Regions from separate parts of the Homo sapiens genome. Here region 1 is linked to region 2. The links come from fine-mapping of genetic effects on gene expression. A gene starts in region 2. The other region holds a variant in brackets. All regions are shown on one strand. Distances are from middle to middle.

Region 1 (4,400 bases), 77 kb before region 2:
CAAAATACATTTTAAATGAAACTTTTTCCTGCTCCACTTACAGTTCAAAAGGCACACCATAGGAATGAATTGGTATGGTGCTTTAGTAGCCAAGATACACAGTTAAAAGTATTAATAAAACAGGAATGAACACATTAAGATGTATTTTAAATACTATAGAGAAATTATTCCTATCAAGAACATCTGAGATGTGGTAGAAACAGATGAAAACATTCATATAAGGTTTAACATATATCATACAAAAGAAACAAATATTAGACACATATCCTGAGAGAATAAAACATTATTTGAAGAAATATAAAATTTACATATGTCAAGGGTGACAGTAATGCCTACTTAGTGAAGTGACATATTCAAAGGTCAAATACTGGCCGGGAGCTATGGCTCACACCTGTATCCCAGCACTTGGGCAGGCCGAGGCGGGTGGATCACGTGCGGTCAGGAGTTTGGGATCAGCCTGGCCAACATGGTGAAACCCTGTCTCTATTAAAAATACAAAAATTAGCTGGGCATGGGGGCGGGCGCCACTTGGGAGGCTGAGGTAGGAGAATCGCTTGAACCCAGAAGCCGACATTGTGCCACTGCTCTCCAGCCTGGGTGACAGAGTGAGACTCCATTTCAAAAACAAACAAAAAAACAAAGGTCAAATATTGTGGCCAGGCATGGTGGCTCATGCCTATAATCCCAGTACTTTGGGAGGCTGAGGCATTGCGGATCACCTGACGTTGGGAGTTCAAGACCAGTCTGACCAACATGGAGAAACCCCGTCTCTACTAAAAATACAAAATTAGCCAGGCGTGGTGGCGAATGCCTGTAACGCTTGAACCCCGGAGGCGGAGGTTGCGGTGAGCCAAGATCGTGCCATTGCACTCCAGCCTGGGCAACAAGAGTGAAACTCCATCTCAAACAAACAAACAAAAAACAAATATTGCTAAGACTGCTCCACCTCCACCCTTCTTTATTTTCTCCTAGAACATAACTGAATGGTTAAGAGCATAAACTCTGGAGTTAGGCTGTCTGCTTTAACAGTTATTAACTGTATAGACTTGGGCAAACCAGTTAAATTCTCTGAACTTTCATTTCTTAAGGACACCTATGATACCTACCATATGGTTGTTGTGAGGACAAAAGGAGTGAATACGAGTGCTCAGATCACTACCTGGCAGTATTCGTTAAGTGTTAGCTATTATTATAAATCTCCAGAAAAACTTTTTCTCCTCAATTACAGCAAGGGCTTCTTTCTAGAAAGGGTGAAATGTTTGTGTTCTTTAGCATTATCTTTGATTGCAGAAAAAACACATATAGGTACAATATCAAGAAGTCAAGTAATCATTAAAATGTTTATTGATGTAAAGCTGCAATCAAACACTAACTCTTGGGAGAAAAATAAAGGGTGAGGACAAAAAAATCACCTGATTATTGTAAAGCTCTGACTTAGGCAAGTTGTTTTGAGTAAACAGGTATAAAATGCTGAAAGAGCTCATGAGTAGGAATCAAGATTTGAATGTAGGAGTAAAAAATGTGCTTATGGGACACAATTACAGCTGTGCTGATGCTTCACACACATAATGTTTAAGTTCTATGAAAGTGTTGAATGGATCACAAACTAGATCAAGTGATTCAGCAAATCCCTTTAGAAGGCAATGCATTCATTGAATGCTGTTCCAAATAAAGTGTTGTAATGTTTCTATAAATACAGAAATTCAAAACTTACAATTAACTAGCTGTTGTACGTTTACTGAGATCTTTAATATCTGAAGTATACAAAAAGGGGCAGGTCAGGCTATAGTGAAGGAGCTTAAGTTTGTTAAGGATTAAGGATTTAGCTCGGCTTCTAGGCCAGCCTTCAGGAATATAAAAAAGGCTTCAGATGACATAAAATCTAAATGTCTCCCAATTTGGCATAGTTTTAAGATAATTTTGCACTGTGGTGTCAAAGCAGAAGTTGTACAGTATATTGAGGACTTTATTATCGTGGAGCAGAGCCTATTATTATTTTGGGATGTTGAGCTGAAGTCAGACTCATTTCTCATAATCCAAGTACATAAAACCTACTTCACCTGATAATCTGAGCCTCAATGTTAAGTGTTTGAAACTCAGAGTCCCCTAATCCTATACCAGTATCTTTTCCCCTGTGTTACAGTATTTATGACTCTGCATGTGCTAAGGAACAGCTTCCTTCTGATTCCTTAAAAGGAAAAACTCAAATAAATATCCAGGACATACGCAACTTTGGAGTTAAAAGTTCAGTAATTTCACTGGAGACAGTTCAGGGAATGTATTTCTTCTAGGCTAACCACACA[T/C]CCACAAAAAAGGGAGTGCTTTTCACACATGGTTTCATCTTGTGCATTAGGAATACAATCCAGTCACTGCATAACCACTGTACAATGTCAATTTCACCAGGTAATAGTATTTTATAACACAGAGAAGTGGAGGTGAGGAATGGGTATATTTAAAGGCTATGATTTTACATAATTTACATAAAAAGTTCTTTCTATACAAGATAATGGTGGTTGGGTGCAGTGGCTCATGTCTGTAGTCTCAACACTTTGGTGGGCTGACATGGGAGGGTATCTTGAGGCCAAGAGTTCAAGACCAGCCTGGGAAATATAGGAAGACCCTGTCTTTATTAAAACAAAACAAAAAAAAAACAAACACAAAACCCCCCAAAACAAAAGGTGATGCCTTCACAAGCCCAAAGGAGCTCTGTCTATAGTTTTGATTTTGTATATCATTTATAATTAAAATGTCACTTTTTCCTGAAGAGCCAAAAGTAGTAATTTAGATAGAATGTTGCTGCAACAATTCAGGAAGAAAAAAATTAAAAACCAATACTTAGAATTTACCAAGCAGCTATTTACTCAGTATGACTCAGGACACAAGCACTGAAGGGTGTATAGTCTAGCGGACTTAGAATCTAAATTAAATAGGAACAAGGATGTACACAGCATGTAGAAGAAAAAAAAAAGCAAATTATCAAAAAGAAGTAGAAATACTTTTTTTTCTTTTTTTAGCAAATGTTTAAATTTGAATTATATTAGTTTCTCCAGTGGGACATCTCTGGCTTCAAAGGTATTAATGGCTAAACAAGATAGTCATCATTTCAGTGAAAATAATAATGGTGTGATGTCAAAGAACATTAAGATGTTTAACAATTTTTGAAATTTATAGCCAAGAAAAAGGATGATTTGGAAATGATGTAATCAGAATTTTTCCACGTCAAGTTCTTGTAGGGAAAACTTCCCAGCAGCTACCCATTCTACAAGTCAAAATGTGTAGGGAAGGAAGAAAGAACCTAAGACAAAATGCCCTTGAAAGTTGTACCTTAGTCCACTGGATGCTACGTCCTCAAAAGACATCACAGTATGGATAATGAACTAATATATAAGTATGAATATCATATATCTAACTGAGAAATAAACAGGGATGGCCATGGTATACAAAACTCTCTATTAAGCCTAATTATTACTTGAGATTTGATGATAAAGTTCTGAGGGTCCTATTGACAGCAGTGCAAATAGCTTCCTTCTGTAGCCAGTCATGGAGAAAAAAGTAACATACTACATATAAAGAAAAAATGGGTTTTACAAAACGCAATACTATATTTTACATTTGAGTTTGAAATTGCTTAGATCTGGATCTTCCTAAAAGTATAAGTTAGAACTAAAGCTTTCAAAGTCTTTTCCAAAATAGTATGCTTTTAGAAACACAATACATTTAGTATTTCGGAACAACTTTTTGAGGGTAGGGACTGTACCTTACCTTTGCACTTAACATTAACGAGCATATAGCAAGTAATCTGTTTATTATGGAGAGCCTCACTACCTCAACCAGTTGACATTTTATTACACACCAAGTACCTGGCAGCTCAATGCCTGTGTTTATCATCTAGAAACAAGGACATGCAATAAATAGAGAAATTTAGACATACTCTTAATCATACCTATTAACATTAGTTGGGACATAAAACTATTAATTTTCCAATAAAAGTTTTGGGAAACCTGAAATAAGACTTTAGAGAGCTGTATAATCAGAATGACTAACAAGAAAAGAGATATATATTAGTCAACCTTGAAGAAAAAAATTCCAGAGATTGAACTTTAATTTTGAGGTTCTTTTTTTTTTTCCCATGCCCCCTGAGGCTCTGTTCTTTATATACAACTTTAATATACAATTAAGTTGCAGTTGTTACTTACAACCTACTTGTTGAATGTTGACCCAAATATGTTTCTTTGGTATCTTTAACACTTGGCTTATAATGGCTGTGTTACAACTTACTCAGATAACTGCTAATAAACATTACTGGAATGTACTGGAGGAAGCTTTTCCCACTATATAGTCAGCTGTTGCTTTTTTCTTAAAAGATGAAACAAAAGACTAATTAACAGACAAACATAACA
Region 2 (4,400 bases):
CCTCCCAAAGTGCTGGGATTACAGGTGTGAGCCACACCAGTTCTGTGGCTGCACTGAAGTGCAGTGGCACAATCTCGGCTCACTGTAGCCTTGACCTCTTGGGCTTAAGCGATCTTCCCACCCCAGCCTCCCAAGTAGCTGGGACTACAGACACATGCCACCATGCCTGGCAAAATATTTTAAATTTTTTGTAGAGATATGGTCTCGCTATGTTGCCTAGGCTGCTCTCGAACTCCTGGCTTCCAGAGATCCTCCTGTCTTGGCCTCCCAAAGTGTTGGGATTACCAACCCTGCCTAGCCCCACCATCCACCCTTCTGTTCAGTGCCCTACATAAATCCTGCAATTGTTAGTTTTTCGCAGAAGCTTTACCCAGTTCAGTTCTGCATTCATCCACTGTACTAACGAAGAGTGTCATATATATTTTTTGTTGTTAATCTCATAACCCAAACTAGATTAATCTCCCTAAGGTTGGTTGTCCTGGCACATTTTTTATTTTATTTTTATTATTTTTTATTTCAATAGGTTTTTGGGGAACAAGTGGTGTTTGGTTACATGAATCAGTTCTTCAGGGGTGATTTCCGAGATTCTGGTGCACCCATTACCTGAGCAGTGAACACTGTATCCAATGTGTAGTCTTCTATCCTTCATCCCCCTCCCACTCTCTTTCTACCAAGTCCCCAAAGTCCATAGTGTCATTCTTGCGGCACATTTCTTTTGTATAGCCAATTGGGTCTACCACCCTGTTGGGCATACAGGCAATCGAAAGCTTTGTAACTGATGAATGACATTTAAAAGCTCTGCTATAGATAAGTATAAACTGCTGATTTCTTACTAAGTGATTTTGCTTTTGAAATTTATTCCTTGTCAAGGAGGTATTAGTTTAAGTATAACCATTTCAAGTACAGAATAACCACTCAATAAGTTTTAGGGATGAAAACATTTAACATGTAATTTTTTATTTTAAAGTAATACATAAGTTGCTAAGACTAACACTTTCAAAACTTTCAGGAAAGGATATAAAGGAATTGAAAACATAAATTATAACACACATAAAGCTTATGAACTCCATTTATCTTAAAATAGTCAATGGATTTTTTGCTCAGGCACAAACCTTAAGTATAATCATCAAGAGCAGAAAACTTGAATGAATGGTGTGTGAATGAATGTATGTGTACACAAAAGCACACTCAGGTCTCCGAAGTTTAAGTAAATGAAATGAAAGGGCTTTGTAAACTAAAAAGAGCCACAGATAAAGGAGGTAGTAGAGCAACAGAGTTAAAAGCGTGGAGCCAGCCTGCTCGGGTGTTAATTATATTAGCTGTGTAACCCTGTACGGTACAAAAGTTACAATACTAAAATTTCCTGTGCCTTAGTTTCTTCACTGTCAAAATGGGGACAACAGTATATATCCCAAAGTAAAGCTCTTAATACGCCCAGCGCATAGAAAGCACAAAATAAATATTGCCCATCATTATGATCACACTGGCTAATATTATTATTGGCTAATATTAGTTATTAGCCAAGTAAAAGCCTCAATGGATGACGTTTCAATTCAAGTCTGAAGCTGGCTATCCAAAGAAACTCCAAAAAACCCAGCAGATTTAAGCTATTAGGTGGACTAGTTTCTCATAATTCTCGCAAGTGCTGAACTGATGATTATTACACACCTAATTTCTCTTACAATTTTTTTTAAATCAGCAAAGAAACTGACATAGGTATCTCTGTTTTCAAGGAACTTTATAAGCCACAAGAAAACAAACCAACTCTTTGTTATCTCCATATTTAAGCAATATAAGAGCGTAGTAAAAGCCTAGATACTTTACAGAACAACTTTTCAGAAAATACAGTAAGGTTTTTAAAGTTGCAATCGACAATTCTTATGCAGTTATGTCAAGTTTTTGTCCTGCGAAACAAAAGCTCATCCGTCAGGAATCCGAGGACCCGTCGGAAAATAAGGAAATGCCTGGGCCGGGCCTAGGCGCTCTGCGGAAAACCTGTCCTCAAAAATGCTCGCCCCACACTCGTTCTGTCCTTCCCCTTCCCCAGGTGCAGCTGTCGACTCCACCCGAAGATAAATAAGTGACAACAGGTTCGGTCCACGCCTCTCCCGGCCCAGTCCCCTGGAGCCCCCCAGCGCCCGCTGCCCGACTCTCCCCGCAGGGACCGGCAGAGGGGCTCCGCCCCGGCCTTGCCGCCCCGCCCCGGGACCCGGCAGCGCTGCCGCGAGCCCGGCCGAGCCGAGGCCGCCGCGGGGCCTGCAGGTGGGCCCAGGGCGCGGCCAAGCCCGGCTGGAGTAGCCCTGCCAGGGCAGGGCAGCTGCGGGCGCGGGGCTCGCACCGGCTCGGCAGTCACTTACCGGCGCCTCATGGTACCGCGGCGCCTCAGCCCAGCCTCGGCGCTGACGACCAGCGCCCGGCAGCCTAGAGAGTCCCTCGGCTTCTGGGCCGAGTCCCACTCAGGGCCATTCAAACGCGGCCGCGCGCGCGGCCCGCCGGGATAGCTGGCGCTGTGGGCGGCTCGCGGGCTCCGCCCAACGTTGGCTCCGCCCCTCTGGGGGTCGCTAAGGGCCGGAGGGGAAAAGGACCTGTGGCCACAGTGCCCCCTGGTGGCTAGAGCTTCGCACGGTAGCCTTGCTATGGCGCGAGAAGTGATACTGCGATAGGAACTGAGGGTGGGTAAAGGTCAACGAATGACCGACCGTGCGCTAGGAACAACCTAGTGTGGGAGACCGTGCCTTAGTGGTGTACCAGGAGGTGCAAACAATTTCCTATAAAGTTATGGTTCCGGGAGAGATTTATTCATTCACACCTATTTAAATACACTAAGAGTCTGGGCACAGTGGCTCACACCTGTAATCCCAGCACTTTGGGAGGCCGAGGCAGGAGGTTCACCTAAGCCCAGGAATTCAAGACCAGCCTGGACGACATGGGGACAACTACCCCCCACCCCCCACCTCCGCCCCCGTCTCTATAAAAATAAAAATGATACTAATAAACGCTCTAAGGCATAGTTTCTAAAAGCATGGATTGTGGAACTATGTGACCTTGAGCAAGTCACATAAACTCCTAGGTGCTTTGCTTTCCCCTTCTGTAAAATGGGGACAATAACAATAGTATCTGTCTCTTAGTGTTGTGAGGATTAAATGAATTAATACATATAAAATGCTTAGAGGAGTGCCCGGCATATGGTAAGCCCTTCGTGTTTGTTAGTCATCATTTTTTTAGTTCCTATTATGTGCCAAACTTTGTGCTAGACTCTTAAGAACACAAGAAATGTACATGATGCAGAACCTGTCCTCAGGAAGCTGGTTCGGTCTTGTTGGGATGGGGAACACTAAATTAGATTATGAGGTTAGGGTTGGGTCTGTAGATGATGAACTTTTAATTACTGAGGGCAGTTCTCTTCATTAGAACCAGGCTGCTCACCTTCATAGATAAGCCACCGGTCAAGGTTAGCCAAGCTGTGACAGGAGCAAGTTTGTCTATGGTGGTTCTCTCGCCCCTTGCAGAAACCAACCAAGCAGTGCCTTTGGTGGAAATACTTCCTCACCACAAGACTACATCCCTTGGCTTGCTTTTTCAGGCACTCATTTCGGAACTCAAGGCTTGCCTAGGGAGCAGGCTGCTTAAGTTTGGTTTAACAATCTTTTTGAAGGCCCGCCATGTGCCAGGCAAATTGTGCCTGGTGCTGGAAATCGCCTGAAGCAGCTCTCAGTGGCTTGAAAAACAGGAAAAGAGATCATTCCAATACACTGCAGTGATAAAAGGTATCTCCTAAATGCCGTGGGAGTTCCGAGCAATGGGAGGCCTGTCAGATAAACTGATCAGAACTAAGATGTCATCAGGTTGTTATAACTTTATGTATTTTTCCTCCCTAGTAACAGAGTCCTTACTTAATCAAAAAAAAAAAAAAAGTCATGTTGAAAATTGAGGCAAGACCTTAGGGCAGTGGGAAAATAGTTTTAGGATATTTGGCATAAGCAACACCTTTGAGAGCTTCTCGATTGTACCAAGCATAAGCAAGGCACATACATGCCTATGTGTGGGGCCACATCTGTTAACAGGTGGTACTGTTGAGAGAGTCCAGCTAGGTGAGTAAAGGAAGCTGGAGCCCTAGGTTCCATGTATGTACAATAAAGAATATTTCCTGAATATGACTTCCACTAAGTAGATGTGTTGTTTTAAAGAAAATAAAAATTCAACACACATGGGTGAAGTCACTTTCTCTCAAGTCATTTCTTCATCATCATGAACAGGAATTTCTTGATGACCCACTATGCAAAAGGCACTGTGCTGGCCTCTCATCAGAAGAATAGGGTAAAAAGAGTGTACTATATGATCGTTATCCTCAAGGGAGGCTAAAGAATTAAGACAAGTAATGGAGTCCTGGAACTCAGGGA

Which allele goes with the higher level. Positions count from the first base shown, and alleles are read on the strand shown. Sizes are in standard deviations (SD) of each study's normalised expression.
For the expression in skeletal muscle of the gene that starts at base 2,503 in region 2, C is the low allele of the variant in region 1 and T is the other (moderate effect, 0.58 SD a copy in GTEx).

What was found. PIP is the estimated chance that this variant, and not a neighbour inherited with it, causes the effect. A credible set is the group of variants that fine-mapping cannot tell apart.
Region 1: its variant is the best candidate, but not a certain one, in a credible set for the expression of KATNBL1 in skeletal muscle (GTEx, PIP 0.76).

The regions. Positions count from the first base shown.
Region 1 is chr15:34,130,827-34,135,226 of GRCh38, forward strand. No RefSeq gene overlaps it. Among named protein-coding and RNA genes, the nearest start is that of PGBD4, 31 kb to the left of the region's middle. The variant T/C (reference allele first, on the strand shown) is at 2,304.
Region 2 is chr15:34,207,594-34,211,993 of GRCh38, forward strand. KATNBL1 (katanin regulatory subunit B1 like 1) reads right to left here and starts at 2,503. Exons shown (of 10, transcript NM_024713.3): 1 at 2,358-2,503. RefSeq lists a silencer at 2,048-2,447.